Homo sapiens: one gene and its partners. The protein of the gene in region 1 purifies or fractionates together with the protein of each later gene. This does not show direct contact. Each region holds a gene or a part of one and is shown in the gene's direction. Other genes may lie near its edges.

Evidence for each region.
Region 2: the proteins of TLR1 (region 1) and DERA purify together in Homo sapiens (affinity purification with mass spectrometry; 2 studies listed by BioGRID and IntAct, with this or other methods). This does not show direct contact.
Region 3: the proteins of TLR1 (region 1) and ALDH16A1 purify together in Homo sapiens (affinity purification with mass spectrometry; 2 studies listed by BioGRID and IntAct, with this or other methods). This does not show direct contact.

What each region holds. Positions count from the first base shown.
Region 1 is NC_000004.12:38,801,540-38,808,675, reverse strand, and holds the start of TLR1 (toll-like receptor 1 precursor), read left to right. Parts: upstream 1-3,884; 5' UTR 3,885-3,922; intron 3,923-4,293; 5' UTR 4,294-4,370; intron 4,371-7,136. UniProt on the Homo sapiens protein: Participates in the innate immune response to microbial agents. Specifically recognizes diacylated and triacylated lipopeptides. Cooperates with TLR2 to mediate the innate immune response to bacterial lipoproteins or lipopeptides.
Region 2 is NC_000012.12:16,033,047-16,037,896, forward strand, and holds the end of DERA (deoxyribose-phosphate aldolase), read left to right. Parts: intron 1-3,185; coding exon 3,186-3,335; intron 3,336-3,643; coding exon 3,644-3,700; 3' UTR 3,701-4,335; downstream 4,336-4,850. UniProt on the Homo sapiens protein: Catalyzes a reversible aldol reaction between acetaldehyde and D-glyceraldehyde 3-phosphate to generate 2-deoxy-D-ribose 5-phosphate. Participates in stress granule (SG) assembly.
Region 3 is NC_000019.10:49,456,113-49,463,412, forward strand, and holds part of ALDH16A1 (aldehyde dehydrogenase family 16 member A1), read left to right. Parts: intron 1-703; exon of another isoform or gene 704-811; coding exon of another isoform or gene 812-814; intron 815-2,373; coding exon 2,374-2,476; intron 2,477-2,847; coding exon 2,848-2,974; intron 2,975-3,557; coding exon 3,558-3,736; intron 3,737-4,709; coding exon 4,710-4,787; intron 4,788-5,506; coding exon 5,507-5,688; intron 5,689-5,771; coding exon 5,772-5,924; intron 5,925-6,457; coding exon 6,458-6,643; intron 6,644-7,300.

The sequences.
Region 1 (7,136 bases):
CATTCTTGGGTGTTTCTCGCAGAGGGGGATTTGGCAGGGTCATAGGACAATAGTGGAGGGAAGGTCAGCAGATAAACAAGTGAACAAAGGTCTCTGGTTTTCCTAGGCAGAGGACCCTGCAGCCTTCTGCAGTGTTTGTGTCCCTGGGTACTTGAGATTAGGGATTGGTGATGACTCTTAATGAGCATGCTGCCTTCAAGCATCTGTTTAACAAAGCACATCTTGCACCGCCCTTAATCCATTTAACCCTGAGTGGACACAGCACATGTTGCAGAGAGCACAGGGTTGGGTTGGGGGTAAGGTCACAGATCAACAGGATCCCAAGGCAGAAGAATTTTTCTTAGTACAGAACAAAATGAAAAGTCTCCCATGCCTACCTCTTTCTGCACACACATGGCAACCATCCGATTTCTCAATCTTTTCCCCACCTTTCCTCCCTTTCTATTCCACAAAACCGCCATTGTCATCATGGCCCGTTCTCAATGAGCTGTTGGGTACACCTCCCAGACGAGGAGGTGGCCAGGCAGAGGGGCTCCTCACTTCCCAGTAGGAGCAGCCGGGCAGAGGCGCCCCTCACCTCCCGGACCGGGCGGCTGGCCGGGTGGGGGGCTGACTCCCCCACCTCCCTCCTGGACGGGGCGGCTGGCCGGGTGGGGGGCTGACCCCCCCATCTCCCTCCCGGACGGGGCGGCTGGCCGGGCAGAGGGGCTCCTCACTTCCCAGTAGGGGCGGCTGGGCAGAGGCGCCCCTCACCTCCCGGACCGGGTGGCTGGCCAGGTCGGGGGCTGACTCCCCCACCTCCCTCCTGGACGGGGCGGCTGGCCGGGCGGGGGACTGACCCCCCCACCTCCCTCCCGGATGGGGTGGCTGGCCTGGCGGGGGCTGTCCCCCACCTCCCTCCCGGACGGGGTGGCTGCCGGGCGGAGACACTCCTCACTTCCCAGACGGGGTGGCTGCCTGGCGGAGGGGCTCCTCACTTCTCAGACAGGGCAGTTGCCAGGCAGAGGGTCTCCTCACTTCTCAGACGGCGCGGCCGGGCAGAGACGCTCCTCACCTCCCAGACGGGGTCGCGGCCGGGTAGAGGCGCTCCTCACATCCCAGATGGGGTGGCAGGGCAGAGGCGCTCCCCACATCTCAGACGATGGGCGGCCGGGCAGAGGCGCTCCTCACATCCCAGACGGGGCGGCGGGGCAGAGGTGCTCCCCACATCTCAGACGATGGGCGGCCGGGCAGAGACGCTCCTCACTTCCTAGATGGGATGGCGGCCGGGAAGAGGCGCTCCTCACTTCCTAGATGGGATGGCGGCCAGGCAGAGATGCTCCTCACTTTCCAGACTGGGCAGCCAGGCAGAGGGGCTCCTCACGTCCCAGACGATGGGCGGCCAGGCAGAGACGCTCCTCACTTCCCAGACGGGGTGGCGGCCGGGCAGAGGCTGCAATCTCGGCACTTTGGGAGGCCAAGGCAGGCAGCTGGGAGGTGGAGGTTGCAGCGAGCCGAGATCACGCCACTGCACTCCAGCCTGGGCAACATTGAGCACTGAGTGAACCAGACTCCGTCTGCAATCCCGGCACCTCAGGAGGCCGAGGCTGGCGGATCACTCGCGGTTAGGAGCTGGAAACCAGCCCAGCCAACACAGCGAAACCCCGTCTCCACCAAAAAAATACAAAAACCAGTCAGGCGTGGCGGCGTGCGCCTGCAATGGCAGGCACTCCGCAGGCTGAGGCAGAGAATCAGGCAGGGAGGTTGCAGTGAGCCGAGATGGCAGCAGTACAGTCCAGCTTCGGCTCGGCATCAGAGGGAGACCGTGGAGGTAGAGGTAGAGGTAGGGGTAGGGGTAGGGGTAGGGGTAGGGGTAGGGGTAGAGGTAGGTAGAGGTAGAGGTGTAGAGGTAGAGGGGAAGTGTGTGTTTGTTGATTGATGGGTGTACATGATTACAAGTGTGTGTTTGTTCTGTGGTGACCCACTGGACAGCAGGGGGAAAAAGAGGCAGGTAGGTGCCTCCGAATTAGACACTTTATTTTATTTATTTATTTATTTATTTATTTATTTATTTATTTATTTATTTTTTGAGATAGAGTCTTGCTCTGTCACCCAGGCTAGAGTGCAGTGGTGTGATCTTGGCTCACTGCAACCTCCGCCTCTTGGGTTCAGGCGATTCTCCTGCCTCAGCCTCCTAAGTAGCTGAGATCACAGGCATGTGCCACCACGTCCGGCTAATTTTTTTTATTTTTAGTAGAGACGGGGTTTCGCCTTCTCTACTAGGCTGGTCTCAAACTCCTGACCTCAGGTGATCTGCCTGCCTCAGCCTCCCAAAGTGTTGGGATTGTAGGCATGAGCTACCATGCCCGGCCTGAATTATACACTTTAAACGGGTGTATTTTTTATCGTTTGTGAAATTTTTTATGGAAGGTGAAATTTTTTATGGTTTGTGAATTATATATCAATAAGGTTTTGTTAAAAAAAAACACAACTAACTACAGATTACATCTAATTGACAGCATATTTTTACTGCCCTGAATCCAAAAAGAAATGCCCAGGTATGGGCTAGGGGTGGGCAGAGACACACACACTTGTAATCATGTACACAACTGGGAGTAGTGGGGATGAGTCTGTGGGGAAAAACAGGAATTCAGAGTGCTGAGAAGCTTCCCTTACTGCCCTGCCCACTTCCCTCCCCTGGGCATTGCTCCCTCAGCCTGGATTCACAAAGTCAATGCCTTTGGGAGCCAGGAACTAAATTCTTAGTCAAAGACACCTCCCTCCTGTCCAGTTATGGGTCTCAGGGAGGAAATGGCAGGTGGGTGGTTTCATTCTTTCAGTTTCAGAAAATATCTGTAGACATAACATATTTCCTCTATTAAACAAATTCTGAGGTAAGGGGAAACAGAGAGAGACAGTCAGAACATTATAAGTCGAAAAGAATCTCAGCATTCTTAGTTTAGGGAAGTTGGCCTTGCTCGCTGTGTGGTAGAAAAGCTGATTACGGGAGAGAACCGTGGAGGGAAGGAAGGGAGGCAGTTTTGTCATCCCCACATCCGGTTTTGACTGGACACCATGCAGGCTGAGATCAACTTCAGAGGCAGTCAGCTGGAATCCCATAGCTTTATTTGCCCATTTATTGTGTTGTTATTTTGTTGTTGTCATTACTGGAAAAGGCAAGAGTAGAGCTATCAGAATGTCTTCCTTGAACATGCTGTCAACAAACCCCAGGATTTTTATAAACCCTATGTGAAAAACACGCTAAGAATCTCTTTTCTTCTTAGCATATTTTTCACTTAGGGTTTACAAAAATATGTTTTGAAGAAAGCTTGAAAAGATCAGTGGAAAAAAATTCAGCACCAAATTTTCTCTGAAAATCAACTTGTCAAAAAAGACGTGATTAACATCCATCCTGTAACCAGCACATGAATGATCTTCCCTCTTTACGAGTGTGCTTCAGCAAAACTTTAATCTCGACCCCTCCCTCTTTCCACTTTTAATAGTGGATGGATGAAAAGGCAAGAGGAAAAACAAAGCAGCCGAAACACACCCAGACGCACACTTCTGCCAAGCATAGCCACCACGGTAAGCATTTTGAATTCAGCCAATTATGATCTGTGGATTATTAACATTACCTCATTTACTTCATCAGTGTAGACAATAGTAAACTGACTGTAGTGAAATTTGGAACCATAGAAACGTGATTCTATTTTAATACAGGCCTATCAGGTAACCCACAGACTATGCTACATATGAATAAGAGAAAATAAGTTTATTCTTAACTATGTAATGTAATTCCAGTGGAATTCGGTAGGTGGCATAAAACAGCCTTTTTGTTTTGTTTTGTTTTCAACACCAAATGTGGTTAACAGTGAAATAAATTCAAGGAAGTGCTTGAATTTCTTACAGACTGCCAAATGGAACAGACAAGCAGGTTGTCTTGGTAAGCAACACATTCTTTTCTTTTGTAAAAGAAAATAATTGTATAGCTAGTTATTAAGTACAGAAGTCTCAAAAATCTGTGTAAGTCCTGGGTGTTTTTCTAAGTGGGTTATATTTCTGATATGTATATAGTTACTGTGTAGTTTGTACTGGCATTTGTGTATCAGTTCTGAGTCCTAAATCAGAGAAAGTCCCCACACTCCTCTGGGAATAACACCTCGTGTGTGATTTGCTTATAGGAAATATTTTTGAGTTGGGAAATGAATATTTGGGTCACACACGTCTTCTGGTTTTCTTCCAGAGCAGCTGCTAGTTGTTGATTTTGACAGCATTTCTCTTCACCTAATCCCGCCATTTGTATTCTCTTCTCAGTGTTAAAGAAAATGAGATATAAGTCAGTTACTCCCGGAGGCAATGCTGCTGTTCAGCTCTTCTGTTTTTGTGGCCAGGTTTGTTTCAGTTTTTCTCTCTGGGGCCTTCCCACTAGCTAGTCCTTCTGTTTCTCAGGCCACTAACACTGTTCTGGGGAGCTAGACGTGAGGTAGAATTGCAGGTTTTGAAAATGTTTCCCAGGCTACATCCAATTTGGTCAAAAGACTTGAAAGTGAATTTGTTTTATAACAAAGCAAGAGTTCACAAAACCGCATAGAAAGCAAAGCAGAACAGTTCTTGAACTGTCTCAGATTCTTTTAACCTTTGGTTAATAGCTATTTGGTCTTGTGCAGAGAAGGCCCTTAGTAAATATTTACAGGACTAAACTTAATGGGCCAGATAGATTGTATGGGTATTGTCCATTAAGACCAGTCAAAGCCTTGATTTGATGCCTCCAAAGTCTCCAAAAGAAGACAAATTAAATGTATTGATTCATTGTATCATATAATGTGAGGCTAAACCTATCATAATAATGAAAATTCACAGAAGCTCACCTAGAGGCATTTTACACTTTCAAATTAAAGCATCCTTTTCTGCTCAGCTTATTTTTTGGATAGTAAAAGAGTTTAAAGGTTCTAAAATAGATGAGGCTCAGTCATGGTCATTAAGACGTTGATCAAAAAATTCTTTGGTCTAGGAAACTGAGACATTGATTTTCATGGATTTAGCAAGTTTGGTATATAAAATTCAAAGATCCTGGAAGTATTAAAAATCAGTTATTCCTGTGTATAACATTTTGATTTCTTAATTATAGAAATAAGAATGGTTTCATAAACTGAGTACTTAAAATTAATGACTTTAAATGAAAGGGCAAGATGGAGGTTAGGCAAATAGAAGATATTTGAGTCAATTAATTTAGCTCGACATAAAACTGAAGCTATGCTTTCATTAAATGCTTGCGTTAGCAGTGGTGAATCCATATGGGTCGTAGAAACTTAATTCTTGCCTCCTCAGTGGAAAGAATTTGTGTGAGGGGCATAAGGCAGAGTGAGAGACCGAGGCAAGTTTTAGAGTAAGAGAGAGAGTGTCACGCCCAGGGCCAGGTTCCAGCCCATACTGAGGTCTGAGGGGAGGGGGTGGATGAGCAGATAGCTGAAAGAACACTCAGGGGGCCGTAGGCAGGTGAAAGGTGATTTTATTCAGCAACAGCTCTCATTAGCAGCTTACTTACAGTAGTTCTCTCAGACTGTCCGCCTTGTCCTGGCTGCTTAGTTCGGCAGCTTCCACACACAACTGTGCGTCCGGCTCTCCCTTGCCCTCAGGGTCAGCAGCTTAACTCTTTCTCTCTCTGGGTACAAGCAAGCCGAGCTGTGTCCTGGCTCCCCTCAGTCCATCTGCAAAGATGGACAGCTTTGGCTCTCTCTCTCTCTCTTTCTCTGGCTGCCAATGCACCTGTACAGCGTCAGCAGGGCAATTATACCATTTACGGACAATAGTGGCTTAGAGCCAAGGGATGAACCTTCCCTATGTTATGGCTATGGTAAGCTTCTCTATGTTATGTCTACATGGCTATGATAAAAAGTGAGTTATACGCCTGCGCTCTAAACTCGCTGAGTCACTCTGGATGTTTACCTTGGCCTATCCTTGACCAAAGCACAGCCATATTCCTTACAGAGAGTTTATTAAGAAGTTTTAGATCAGGAACGAAAGGAAATAAAGTACACTTGGAGGAGGGCCAAGTGGGCAACTTGAGAGATCCAAGTGCCCAGTTTAACCTATTACTTGGGGCTTATTTGTTGGCAGGCTTCTGGAGTCTTGCGTCTCTTCTCCCCTGATTCTTCCCTTGGGGTGGGCTGTCTGCATGTGCAGTGGCCTGCCAGCCCTTGGGATGGGCTGCACACACACTGTGTTTACTGAAGTTGTGTACATGCTCATTGGAGACATTTTTCCCTTGCCAGACAAGTCTTCCTAGAGGAAGGTCACATACCCGTTGAAGTCCGCCATTTTGCCTCTTGGTATGCATGCTCAAGCCTGCTTGCCCAGCTCCTGAGAGTTTGTCAGGAGTCTGCTAACCACCAGCTTCAGGTGTGTTTTCTATCTATTAGGAGACTGACTTTCCCTGATGCTGGCTGCAAACAATTATTATTCTAGAGAGACTGTTTTTTTGTTTTTGTTTGTTTGTTTTTGAGACAGAGTCTAGCCCTGTTGCCCAGGCTGGAGTGCAATGGCATGATCTTGGCTCACTGCAACCTCTGCCTCCTGGGTTCAAGCAATTCTCCTGCCTCAGCTTCCCCAGTAGCTGGGATTACAGGCACCTGCCATCACGCCCGGCTAATTTTTGTATTTTTAGTAGAGACAGGGTTTCACCATGCTGGCCAGACTAGTCTCAAACTCCCGACCTCAAGTGATCCACCTATCTCAGCCTCCCGAAGTGCTGGAATTACAGGCGTGAGCCATGGCCCCCGGCTTAGAGAGACTGTTTAACAACTGCCTGATCATCACCTGATGGTCACCTGATATTCCTGGTTGGGGGGCCCCTCTCCTGTCCTGCTCATGTCTGCCTAAGTACCTACTCTAACACTTGGGGGCAGGCAGTTATATAAATTTATATATTTTTGTGATGATAGCTGTTGTTAAGGGAAAAAGGACAACTTTCATCTTGCGTGTGGTAGGTTCTGCGAGCCAAGCTCTCGCACTCATGCACGGGGTCCTGTGTGCCTCTGATCACTTTTGAATACCACGCCTGACTGTGCTGATCACTGCTTCCATGAACTCTGGAGTTGGCTAGGAGGTGGAAAGAGCCTTGATCTGGATTCAGGCATAGGAATAAGCAGGGAACCCCA
Region 2 (4,850 bases), on another chromosome or scaffold:
ATGGAAAGAATTGCAGAGTAACATTTATTGAATGATAAGCTGTGGTGGTGATATGAAAGGTATGCAATATAATGGGAAACAATCTTTTCCTGTCATTATTGAAGGACACACATAAATTGGTTTTTCTGTTGGGAAACCCCCGGTCCAGAAAAACTTATTACTTTTAATAATATGAGGTGAAGAGAAAATTCTCGAGGAGATGAACTTATTAAACAAAATAATGAAATGCTGTGAAACAGCAGGGAAAAGGTAGCTAGACGTTATATAGCTCTTGAATTAAATATCAATTTTTGCGTTTTATGGAAGTTGGATGTGCTCTTTGGAAGACTGTTAAGCTGAGGAGGGTGTATACTAGTTTTTGTCAGCTTTTCGAAAAATGATACATATTTTTTGAAACATATGAAGTTAAAAGGAAAAATGCGTATGAGTTGCTTTTTTAAAAATGAGTTTGGATTTTCCTTTTCATCTCAAGTTACTTGTTTAGCTGCAAATTATCTCAAAGGATTTTTTTTTTTACATGATTGGAGAGCAAGGTTGTGTGTGTGTGTGTGTGTGTGTGTGTGTGTGTGTGTGTGTGTTTAATGACACTTTCCCTTCCTGAGAGGCATCTTTTAAATCCAGTCTCTTGATTTGTGCCAAATAGAAACCCAAAAAAGACCTTTAATCCTTTGTCCATTGGATGTGATGACTTTATATGTAAGTGTAGCTTCAGTTTATTTTGGAATAGTGACCTTTTTTTTAATATACTGTTTTATGAGAGGAAATAAACTCCTTCCAGAATTTTCTCACTTAAAATAACTTCACATCTTAATTACGAATAGGATAAATATCTATTGTGAACTACATGAGAAAGCTGACCCAACTCGAATAACCTCTACCTGGTATCCTTTCTGCAACAATCCAAATAAGTTAAAAGAGTTTTTGTTTAGATAAGCTGTAAAAATGATAAATCTATCTTTGGTCCTCAGTTGAAACTACCACCACTCATTTGATTGTGATTCTCATTCTTAGCCAAAGAATATCAAAACCAAATGTGAAGCTTTTCATACTTACAGATGCCTGGGCCCCCATCCCTGGTGGTTTTGGGTCTGGCATAGTCTTCAGGCATCTGTTTGCATTAAGTTCCATTGCCAGGGTTCAGACCTGCCATTGGGGACCCAGTCCTGTTTTGTTCTCAACAAACATTTATTGGGTAGTTAACCATGTGCCATGTTAACCTGTGTTAAATGCTAGGAATGGAAAAATGAGTATGTTCCTTCTCAGGAGAGCTCTTAGACAACAAGCAAAGAATGTCAATGAAATTTTTAAGTGCTCAGTGTTCCAGGCCAGAGTACAGAGGGAGGGACACTTTGCTGTCTTTCAGTCCTTTCTTTTTAATTGTATTGATTCTTTTCCTCGGTAATAAATAAGTCCATCCTAGTTTTATTAAGAAAAAGACAGGTACAAGCCAAATTGTATTCATTTAATCATATTCGATTTCAAACAAATAGGTTCTGTGTATGTGTTTGCAAATCAGGTGCAGCCTTTCGGGTTGCTTGACAAGTTGCTTGGGCAGCCCTTAGACTATAAAGTTTCTACGTCATTGATTTAAGGGTGTTTTAAAATGCGATAGGCTAGCTTCCAGACCATGATTAGTGTCACTCCTGAGAAGCAGAGGTTTAATATTTCATAACTGATTTCATTGCAGATTTATGTCTTCCATATTCTCTTTAAAAAAAAAAAAGATAAACTTATGTTAGAACCTCTCTGGAAACAGACTTGCTGACACAAACTGAACTGTATAGGAAATCTGTAAGAAGCACTGCCTAATTGACAAAAATGGTCCTATGATTAACATGTATGCTAATATCAACTAATTGATTTTTTTGGCTTATTCTCAACAAATAACCTCATCCTACTTAACCCCCTACTACCTTACAGCTTGGGCTCCAGAGTAATAGCAGATATGGTTGGAATCCGTGCACTGCTACTGCTTAGTTGTGTGACGTTGTGTAATTGAGGCAGGGAAACCAGTTAAAAGACTTTTACTGATATTTCCTGTGAGAATTGATAAGGGTCTAAACTGAAACAAGTGAGAGTGCAGTGGAAAGAGTGCATGTGAGGGGGTAAGGAAGGTAAGGAGGTAGAATTGTCAGGACTTAAATATTGATTGGGTGTGGTGTGGCCAGGGAATGGTGGAGTTTGGATTAAACTATAAGGTTTCCTGCTTGGGTTGATAATAGAATATATTCATTTAATGTCTCCCTTCTCTAGCATTCTGTTAGCAGTCATCTGCTGGTGCAACCAGTCATAGCCCTGAGTGATAAAACGTGAGAGATTTAGTACTCAGGCTCTGAGGTGTTGTTTTGACCACTACCATCTACAGATTCCCAACTCTACTGGATAGTCAGGTTCCTGAAACATGTAAATCCAGATAATCAGAGTTTTATTGTATATGGAACATATCTTTCATTTCCTAATGGATCCAGGGACATCATTTACGAATATCAGATATTGGCTGAATTCAGCTGTGTTATGATCAACCTTAAAGACTACTGGACTATGAGGAGCCCCTCACGGTGTTTTTCTACTGCCCTTATGTAACTGGTCTGCCAGCTTTTTAGAACTGTGTGTGCCTGCAACTTAGAAAAAAAATCCCACAGTTAAATTGGTTAAAACAACTGTCAACTTTCCTTGCTTTTTTGCTGCCAGTTTGGTTAGGGTAACCTTGCAGCCTTGCTGATTCTGTCCTTTGATTTTAAATGCACGTGTCTTTTGAACCTCAAGATGAAGGCTGAGAAGTGACTCTACAGGCTTACTTGTGGAAATGTAGAATGAGTGGGCTTTGCTTTTGTGATCTGTTTTCCTATTTATTGACACCTTCCTTGTTTATTCCAGGTTCACAGCTATAGTCTAGATGGTGGAGGTTTATGACTTTCCAATAAGTGAAATGTTAATGAGGGTTATTAACCCTCACTAGTGTCTGTTTGGAAGTAGTGACATTCTTCCAAAAATCTTGGAAAAGTTGTTTTGTAGTGTGAATGAGCATGAGTCACTGATCTAAGCCCTTTCACTGGATGAAGTGAAAAGATTTTTTTTCAACAAAAGAGGGAGAGAGAGAATCAAGACTCTGATAAACATAGTACTATTTTTAAAAGAAATCCAATAACAATAAAGATTGTTCTATTCTCTGCCTTCCCATTTAGATAGGGTTTAAACCAGCAGGAGGCATCCGCAGTGCAAAGGATTCCCTTGCTTGGCTCTCTCTTGTAAAGGAGGAGCTTGGAGATGAGTGGCTGAAGCCAGAACTCTTTCGAATAGGTGCCAGTACTCTGCTCTCGGACATTGAGAGGCAGGTGAGTAATCATCTCTGTCTTTGGAATAAATTAACAAGTGTTTTTTGAGAAAGGAATTGAAAAGTCAAATTGAGAACTGGAGATAAAAACTCATCTGATTGACCTCATCCTACCCAATCCTCTACCTTTTCTTCCAAGCAAACCGCCATCAGAAGTGAGTAGGGTGGAGATTCTGCTGAAGCACATACTAGTGAGGCTTTCTAATGAAATGTTCATTAAAACTATTTATTATTATTTGATAGTATAATTATTAACTGATGTGTATAATTATAGAATGATTGTTAATTAAACTCTGCTTTTCCTCACAGATTTACCATCATGTGACTGGAAGATATGCAGCTTATCATGATCTTCCAATGTCTTAAATCAGTCACCAGTTCCAGAAAAGTTCTTTACGACAATGTTTAAAAATTATTTTTCTACGTAATTGCTAAAATTATTTAATTAAAAAATTGGGCAGTAGGTAACTGGCATTCCTCTCTTTAAAATTTCTACCGAACTTAATGGAATGGAAAAAGCAAACTCATCCACATGTGGTACTCATTTCAGGCACATCTGAAATGATCTTAATTACTAGAAGATCTGCACTATTAACTTTGTGAAGAGTTTCTCCTAAAAACTTTAAGTAAAATGTTAATGGTAGCTTTGATAACATCAAATTCTAAGGGAGAAAAAAACAATATTAAACCGCCCAAGCAGTGTGCCCTAGCAGAGGAAAATGCAACATCTCGCAAGCGCTGCTGTAACGACTTCAGGAGTCACTGATTCAGCACTAATTTCCTGCTGTGAAAACTCATCTTTCATTTTTGCCGTGGATAGGCGCTTTTATTAATTGTTGTCCTAATGAAATTTCTGACATTGTCATATACAACGATGAATATCATTAAAATTTTTAAAATAATAAAGTTCCTATAGTTTATTTTTTTAAAAAACTTAAAAATTGTTACAATACATAATGAAAAAATAATCCATTAAACATAAAAAGAGGTTTGATCAGTGAGTCTCTGAATCTCTCTAGTTGATTCCTTGGGTATATATCTGTAAAACACCCCAGTATGTTATTAATGAATGCAACTTATGTATGTGTTCTGAAACTTCAAATTTTCTGGTATAGTGAATGGAGGAAAACAGTAGATATTAACAGCACTTGCTGTGTAATAAGCTTTACATATATCAATTTATTTAACTCTCATTTAATCCTCATAATAGTAAGGTAAATACAGTTAAGGGTTTTGCTTCTTATAGCAGTAAGTACTCATGTAAACATCCTTTTATACAGACAGGGGAATGAGGAACAAAGAGTTTAAGCAACGTGCCAAAGGTTGCTCAAAATTAGCAGAGTTAAAAATCAAGCCCAAGCAGACAGGCTGGCTCCCAAGTGCGTGCAGTCACCCCCATGTCTCCCTGTCCCTCGGTACACATAGTCAGGTGTACATAAACAGAGCTCCCCATCAGCTGAGAGGACGGTAATCTGCCTCATGGTGGCTGGCTTTTTTGCTCTCTGTCTGTCCCAGC
Region 3 (7,300 bases), on another chromosome or scaffold:
TGTTTTTCTTTTGGGGGGAAGCTTTCCAACTTGCACAGAATAATTAGCATTTATTTTGAACTCCTGTTTACCCATCACTGTGCCTCAACCATCATCAACATTTATCCCAGCGCTGTTTCCTTCTGTATTTTCTTTGGAGTAATTTAAACAAATCCTGGATGTCACAGTATTTTCCTATAAATATTTGAATCCTTTCTTCTAACAGATAAGGGCTCATTTTGTTACAAAACTACCATGGTCTGTTACCACACTTAACATTAAGTCATTCTTTTTGTTTTTTGTTTGTTTGTTTGAGACAGGATCTTACTCTGTCGCCCAGGCTAGCATTCAGTAGCGTTCATAGCTCACTGCAGCCTGAAACTCCTGGACCCAAGCAATCCTCCCACCCCAGCCTCCTGACTAGCTGAGACTACAAGTGTGCATCATCATGACTGGCAAATTTTTTACTTTTATTTTTGTAGAGATGGGGTCTTGCTGTGTAGGTCCAGACTAGTCTCAAACTCCTCAGCTCAAGCAATCCTCCCGTCTCAGCGTGGGAAAGTGCAGGGATTACAGATGTGAGCTACCATGCCCGGCCAACAATCATTCTTTAATGTCATCTGATGCCCAGTTCATGTTCAAATATCCCTGACTTTCTCACAGATGTCTCTCTCCCTGTGGGCGTTTGAGTTTGGAACTTCTAAGTAACTTTTTTGCTTTAAAGAGAAAGGAGAAGCCAGGCACAGTGGCTCATGCTTGTAATCCCAGCACTTTGGGAGGCCGAGGCGAGTGGATCACCTGAGGCCAGGAGTTCGAGACCAGCCTGGCCAACATGGTAAAAACCCATCTCTACTAGAAATATATAAATTAGCTGGGCATGGTGGCGGCCGCCTGTAATCCCAGCTACTTGGGAGGCTGAGGTAGGAGAATCACGTGAACCCAGGAGGCGGAGGTTGCAGTGAGCTGAGATCGCACCATTGCACTCCAGCCTGGGAGACAAGAGCAAGACTCCATCTCAAAAAAAAAAAAGAAAGAAGGGCCAGTAAGAGAAAAATCAGGAATATGTGACATCAGAGATGCTAGGGGAGTCTGTAGAAGGAGCAAGTGAGCAGTGTGCTTTGGATTTAGCATCAGGGAAGACGTGACCAGGATGAGAAAGAAATATGGAGGAGAAGTCCGGGCGCAGTGGCTCACGCCTGTAATCTCAGCACTTTGGGAGGCCGAGGCGGGCGGATCACGAGGTCAGGAGATCAAGACCATCCTGGCTAACACAGTGAAACCCCATCTCTACTAAAAATACAAAAAAATTAGCCAGGCGTGGTGGCAGGCGCATGTAGTCCCAGCTACTCGGGAGCCTGAGGCAGGAGAATGGCGTGAATCCAGGAGGCGGACCTTGCAGTGAGCAGAGATCGCGCCACTGCACTCCAGCCTGGGTGACAGAGCAAGACTCTGTCTCAAACAAAAAAAAAAAAAAGAAAGAAAGAAATATGGAGGAGATGTGGTGAGTGAGATGTGGTAAAAAAATTTTTTTTCTTTGAGACAGAGCCTTGCTCTGTTACTCAGGCTGGAGTGCAGTGGCGTGATCTTGGCTTACTACAGCCTCTACCTCCTGGGCTCAAGTGATCCTCCCACCTCAGACTCCCAGGTAGCTGGGACTACAGGCACTCACCACCACACCCGGCTAACTTTTTGTATTTTTTGTAGAGATGAGCTTTCACCATGTTGCCCAGGCTGGTCTTGAATGCCTAGGCTCAGACCACCTCGGCCTCCCAAAGTGGACTCCAAATAGGTGCCACTGTTGTGGCACCAGCCCAAGGACTCAGTTGAGACCCTAATTGAATGAATTAAAGATGTTGACACATCCATAATCCCAGCACTTTGGGAGGCCAAGGCGTGCAGATCACTTGAGGTCAGGAGTTCAAGACCAGCCTGACCAACATGGTGAAACCCCGTCTCTACTAAAAATACAAAAACAAAACTAGCCGCATGTGGTGGCGGGCGCCTGTAGTCCCAGCTACTCAGGAGATTGAGGCGGGAGAATAGCGTGAACCCAGGAGGCGGAGCTTGCAGTGAGCTGAGATCATGCCACTGCACTCCAGCCTGGGTGACAGAGCAAGACTCAGTCTCAAAAAAAAAAAATGAAAAAATGTTCTAGAACTAGAGTGGTGATGGTTACACAACACTGTAAATGCACAGAATGCCACTAAACTGCTGAACTATACACTTTGAAATGCTCTATTTTACCACAAACTTTTTTTTTAAAGCAATAGGAGGAAAAGAATTAGCTGATGGGGCAGAGGGAGACAGACGTCCCCTCCTAGAGGATTCTGGGTAGGGGTTGAACTGCCCCAGCTCCTCCCGAACCCCTTTCCAAACTGTCTCTACCTCCCCCAGGCCTGGCTGGACACCCAGGACCGGTGCTTGGGCCACTATGTGAATGGGAAGTGGTTAAAGCCTGAACACAGAAATTCAGTGCCTTGCCAGGATCCCATCACAGGTACGAGATGTCCCCCAGTCATTAGTGGAAGGGAGGTATCTGTGCCCTCTAGCCCTACCCACCAACACCCATTCCCCTTGCCTAGGGCCCTGAGGGCAGGAAACAGCTGGTGGTGGGAGATGGGCTGCGATGTCTGGTTCCTTCTGAAACCAGTCACCCTAATTATGGTTCCGGGTCTCTGTGGAGGCTTTGTGAGACTGCTGTCTGTTAAAATAGCTTCCTTGCCCTGGAGGTGATCATAGCCGTGACCCAGCAGAGAATGGGGACCAGCTTTACACTCTTGGGCTGATCCAGGCTCCGAAAATCTCAGCCCCCTCCAGATATGACATGGGCTACTCCTCCCATCTGAGTCCCCCCACTTTTCTCCCCAGGAGAGAACTTGGCCAGTTGCCTGCAGGCACAGGCCGAGGATGTGGCTGCAGCCGTGGAGGCAGCCAGGATGGCATTTAAGGGCTGGAGTGCGCACCCCGGCGTCGTCCGGGCCCAGCACCTGACCAGGTGATGCAGCTGAGGTGTGGACCCCGGGAGGCGGGGAACCCCAGCATCCACTCGAGACCATGGGAACAAAGGCTATTTCCCAAGATCCCACTGAATTAATTTGCAGCTAAGGCTCAGATTCCCAGTATGTGCTGGAGGCAGTCGTGGCTGAAACATGCATCCGTTGTCCACTATTCACTGGGACTAGAAGCCACAAAGCCTCTATTTCCCAGGACATTCTTGGAGTGCATTGGGGCTCAGTTCACTGGGGCTGGTGAAGCCCCTAAATCCATTTCCTAGCCGCTTGCGGGGAAGCTAGAGACAAAAATTCCATTTCCCAAAACGCAATTGAGGTTAGAAGCTAAGACTCAATTTCCCAAAAGCTTCAGGGATTTCCGGCGGCCAAGACCTTTACACAGCATCCTCAGGGTTTGTGTTTCCATGACTATAATTCTCATAAATCTTCACTGCCCTCTGCCCCAGGTAAATGGTGGGGATGCCTCAGGGGCTCATGGGGATTGTAGTCCAGGTATATAGGAGCAGCCCAGGACTCTGCAAGGCTGAGGGCCGTTGGAAAATGAGCACCCTCTTGCTTTCTCGACAGGCTGGCCGAGGTGATCCAGAAGCACCAGCGGCTGCTGTGGACCCTGGAATCCCTGGTGACTGGGCGGGCTGTTCGAGAGGTTCGAGACGGGGACGTCCAGCTGGCCCAGCAGCTGCTCCACTACCATGCAATCCAGGCATCCACCCAGGAGGAGGCACTGGCAGGCTGGGAGCCCATGGGTGAGACCCTGGAGTCCCTAGCCCTATCCTCCCACATGACTCAGCAGTGCTAGCTCCAGTCCCCTCATTCTTTTTCTTTTAGACAGAGTTTCGCTCTTGTCGCCCAGGCCGGAGTGCAGTGGCGCAATCTTGGCTCACTATAACCTCCGCCTCCCGGGTTCAAGTGATTCTCCTGCCTCAGCCTCCTGAGTAGCTGGAATTACAGGCACCCACCACCACACCTGGCTAATTGTTATATTTTTATTAGAGAAGAGGGGTCTCATCATGTTGGTCAGGCTGGTCTCAAACTCCTAACCTCAGATGATTCACCTGCCTTGGCATCCCAAAGTGCTGGGATTACAGGCATGAGCCACCGTGCCCGGTCCCCTCATTCTTTTTCTTTTGTTTTTGTTTTTGTTTTTTTCTTTTTCAGACAGGGTCTTTCTCTGTCACCCTGGCTGGAGTACAGTGGTGCAATTATAGCTCACTGATACCTCGACCTCCTGGGCTCAAAATCCTCCCACCTCAGCCTCCCAAGTAACTGGGACTACGACCATGCACCACCACACCTGACTAGTTTTTGTTTTTGTTTTTTTTTTTTTTGAGATGGAGTTTCGCTCTTTGTTGCCCAGGCTGGAGTGCAGTGGTGCGATCTCGGCTCACTGGAACCTCCGCCTCCCGTGTTCAAGTGATTCTCCTGCCTCAGCCTCCCGAGTAGCTGGGACTACAGGCATGCACCACCACGCCTGGCTAATTTTGTGTTTTTAGTGGAGATGGGGTTTTTCCATGTTGGTCAGGCTGGTCTCGAACTTCCCACCTCAGGTGATCCGCCCACCTCGACCTCCCAAAGTGCTGAGATTACAGGCGTGAGCCACCACACCCGGCCATTTTTTTTTTTTTTTCCTAATGTAGCCATGGGGTCTTGCCATGTGGCCCAGGCTGGACTTAAACACCTAGCCTCAAGGGATCCTCTTGCCTCATTTTTTTCTTGCAGGAGTAATTGGCCTCATCCTGCCACCCACATTCTCCTTCCTTGAGATGATGTGGAGGATTTGCCCTGCCCTGGCTGTGGGTAAATGATGGCCTGGGGGGTCCTGACTCTTGGGTCTGAGAAAGGAGGGGATCGTGGGGCCCAAACTCCAGAGTCTGAGAGACAAGGGGGCTGGAGGCCTGGACTCTGTGGAAGGAGTCTGTGGGAGGAGGGGCTGCGGGTCTGAACTCCTAGGTCTGAGGGAGGAGGAGCTGGAGTCTGGACTCCTGAGTCTGAGGGAGGAGGAGCTGGAGTCTGGACTCCTGAGTCTGAGGGAGGAGGGGCTGGAGTCTGGACTCCTGGGTCTGAGGGAGGAGGGGCTGGGGTCTGGATTCCTGGGTCTGAGGGAGGAGGGGCTGGGGTCTGGACTCCTGGGTGTGAGGGAGGAGGGGCTGGGGTCTGGACTCCTGGGTCTGAGGGAGGAGGGGCTGGGACCTGGACTCCTGGGTCTGAGGGAGGAGGGGCTGGGACCTGGACTCCTGGGTCTGAGGGAGGAGGGGCTGGAGTCTGGACTCCTGGGTCTGAGGGAGGAGGGGCTGGAGTCTGGACTCCTGGGTCTGAGGGAGGAGGGGCTGGGCCTGGACTCCGGGGTCTGAGGGAGGAGGGGCTGGGGGCCTGGACTCCTGAGTCTGAGGGAGGAGGGGCTGGAGTCTGGACTCCTGGGTCTGAGGGAGGAGGGGCTGGGGGTCCAGATTCCTGGGTCTGAGGGAGGAGGGGCTGGGCCTGGACTCCTGGGCCTTTGAGCTGCCCCACTTCCCCAGGCTGCACCGTGGTGGCCCTCGTGCCCCCGGCCTCCCCGGCGCCCCTCCTCCTGGCCCAGCTGGCGGGGGAGCTGGGCCCCTTCCCGGGAATCCTGAATGTCCTCAGTGGCCCTGCGTCCCTGGTGCCCATCCTGGCCTCCCAGCCTGGAATCCGGAAGGTGGCCTTCTGCGGAGCCCCGGAGGTACCTTCGGGACAGGGGTCGTGGCGGAACGCGGCTGGGGGCCGCAAGGCTCCTCCTGCGGCTGAACTGGGGGGGGTCCCTAGGAAGGGCGTGCCCTTCGACGGAGCCTGGCGGGAGAGTGTGCGGAGCTGGGCCTGGCGCTGGGGACGGAGTCGCTGCTGCTGCTGACGGACACGGCGGACGTAGACTCGGCCGTGGAGGGTGTCGTGGACGCCGCCTGGTCCGACCGCGGCCCGGTGAGACCCGTGCGCTCCCGTCTCCTCATACCCTGGAGGCCGTTGGTGTCTGTCTCCAGTCTTCGGGGTCCCGAGTCTCTGTTCATTTTATTTTATTTTATTTTATTTATTTTGAGACGGAGTTTCACTCTTGTCGCCCAGGCTGGGGTGCAGCGGCGCGATTTTGGCTCACCGCAACCTCTGCCTCCCAGGTTCAGCCTGGGAGTAGCTGCCTCAGCCTCCCGAGTAGCTGGGATTACAGGCGGGCACCACCATGCCTGGCTAATTTATGTATTTTTAGTAGAGACGGGGTTTCACCATGTTGGCCAGGCTGGTCTCGAACTCCTGACCTCAGGTGATCCGCCCACCTCGGCCTCCCAAAGTGCTGGGACTGCAGGTGTGAGCCACCGCATCCGGCCTCTCTGTTCTTTAGGACTCTGTTGATTTATCTGAGTGTCCATGTCCCTAGTTTTCCAGCCTCTGTCTTCACTCTTCAGATCACCAACTTGCTAGAGTGCAATGGTGTGATCTCCTGATGCCCCTTTTCCTCACAGGGTGGCCTCAGGCTCCTCATCCAGGAGTCTGTGTGGGATGAAGCCATGAGACGGCTGCAGGAGCGGATGGGGCGGCTTCGGAGTGGCCGAGGGCTGGATGGGGCCGTGGACATGGGGGCCCGGGGGGCTGCCGCATGTGACCTGGTCCAGCGCTTTGTGCGTGAGGCCCAGAGCCAGGGTGCACAGGTGAGGCAGGGGGTAGAGACTTGAGGGTGTCAGGGGAGGAGGGGCCTGGAGACCCAGCTCCTGGGTCCAAGGGAGGAGGGAGCTGGGCGTGGACAACTGGGTCCGAGGAAGGAGGGGCTGGGAGCCTGGACTCCTGGGTCTGAAGGAGGAGGGGCTGGGCCTGGACTCCTGGGTCTGAGGGAGGAGGTGCTGGGGCCTGGATTCCTGGGTCTGAGGGAGGAGGGGCTGGGGCCTGGACTCCTGGGTCTGAGGGAGGAGGGGCTGGGCCTGGACTCCTGGGTCTGAGGGAGGAGGTGCTGGGGCCCGGATTCCTGGGTCTGAGGGAGGAGGGGCTGGGGCCCGGATTCCTGGGTCTGAGGGAGGAGGGGCTGGGGGTCCAGACTCCTGGGTCTGAGGGAGGAGGGGCTGGCGGCCTGGACTCCTGGGTCTGAGGGAGGAGAGGCTGGGGGTCCAGACTCCTGGGTCTGAGGGAGGAGGGGCTGGGGGCCTGGACTCCTGGGTCTGAGGGAGGAGGGGCTGGGCCTGGACTCCTGGGTCTGAGGGAGGAGGTGCTGGGGCCTGGATTCCTGGGTCTGAGGGAGGAGGGGCTGGGGCCTGGACTCCTGGGTCTGAGGGAGGAGGGGCTGGGGGTCCAGATTCCTGGGTCTGAGGGAGGAG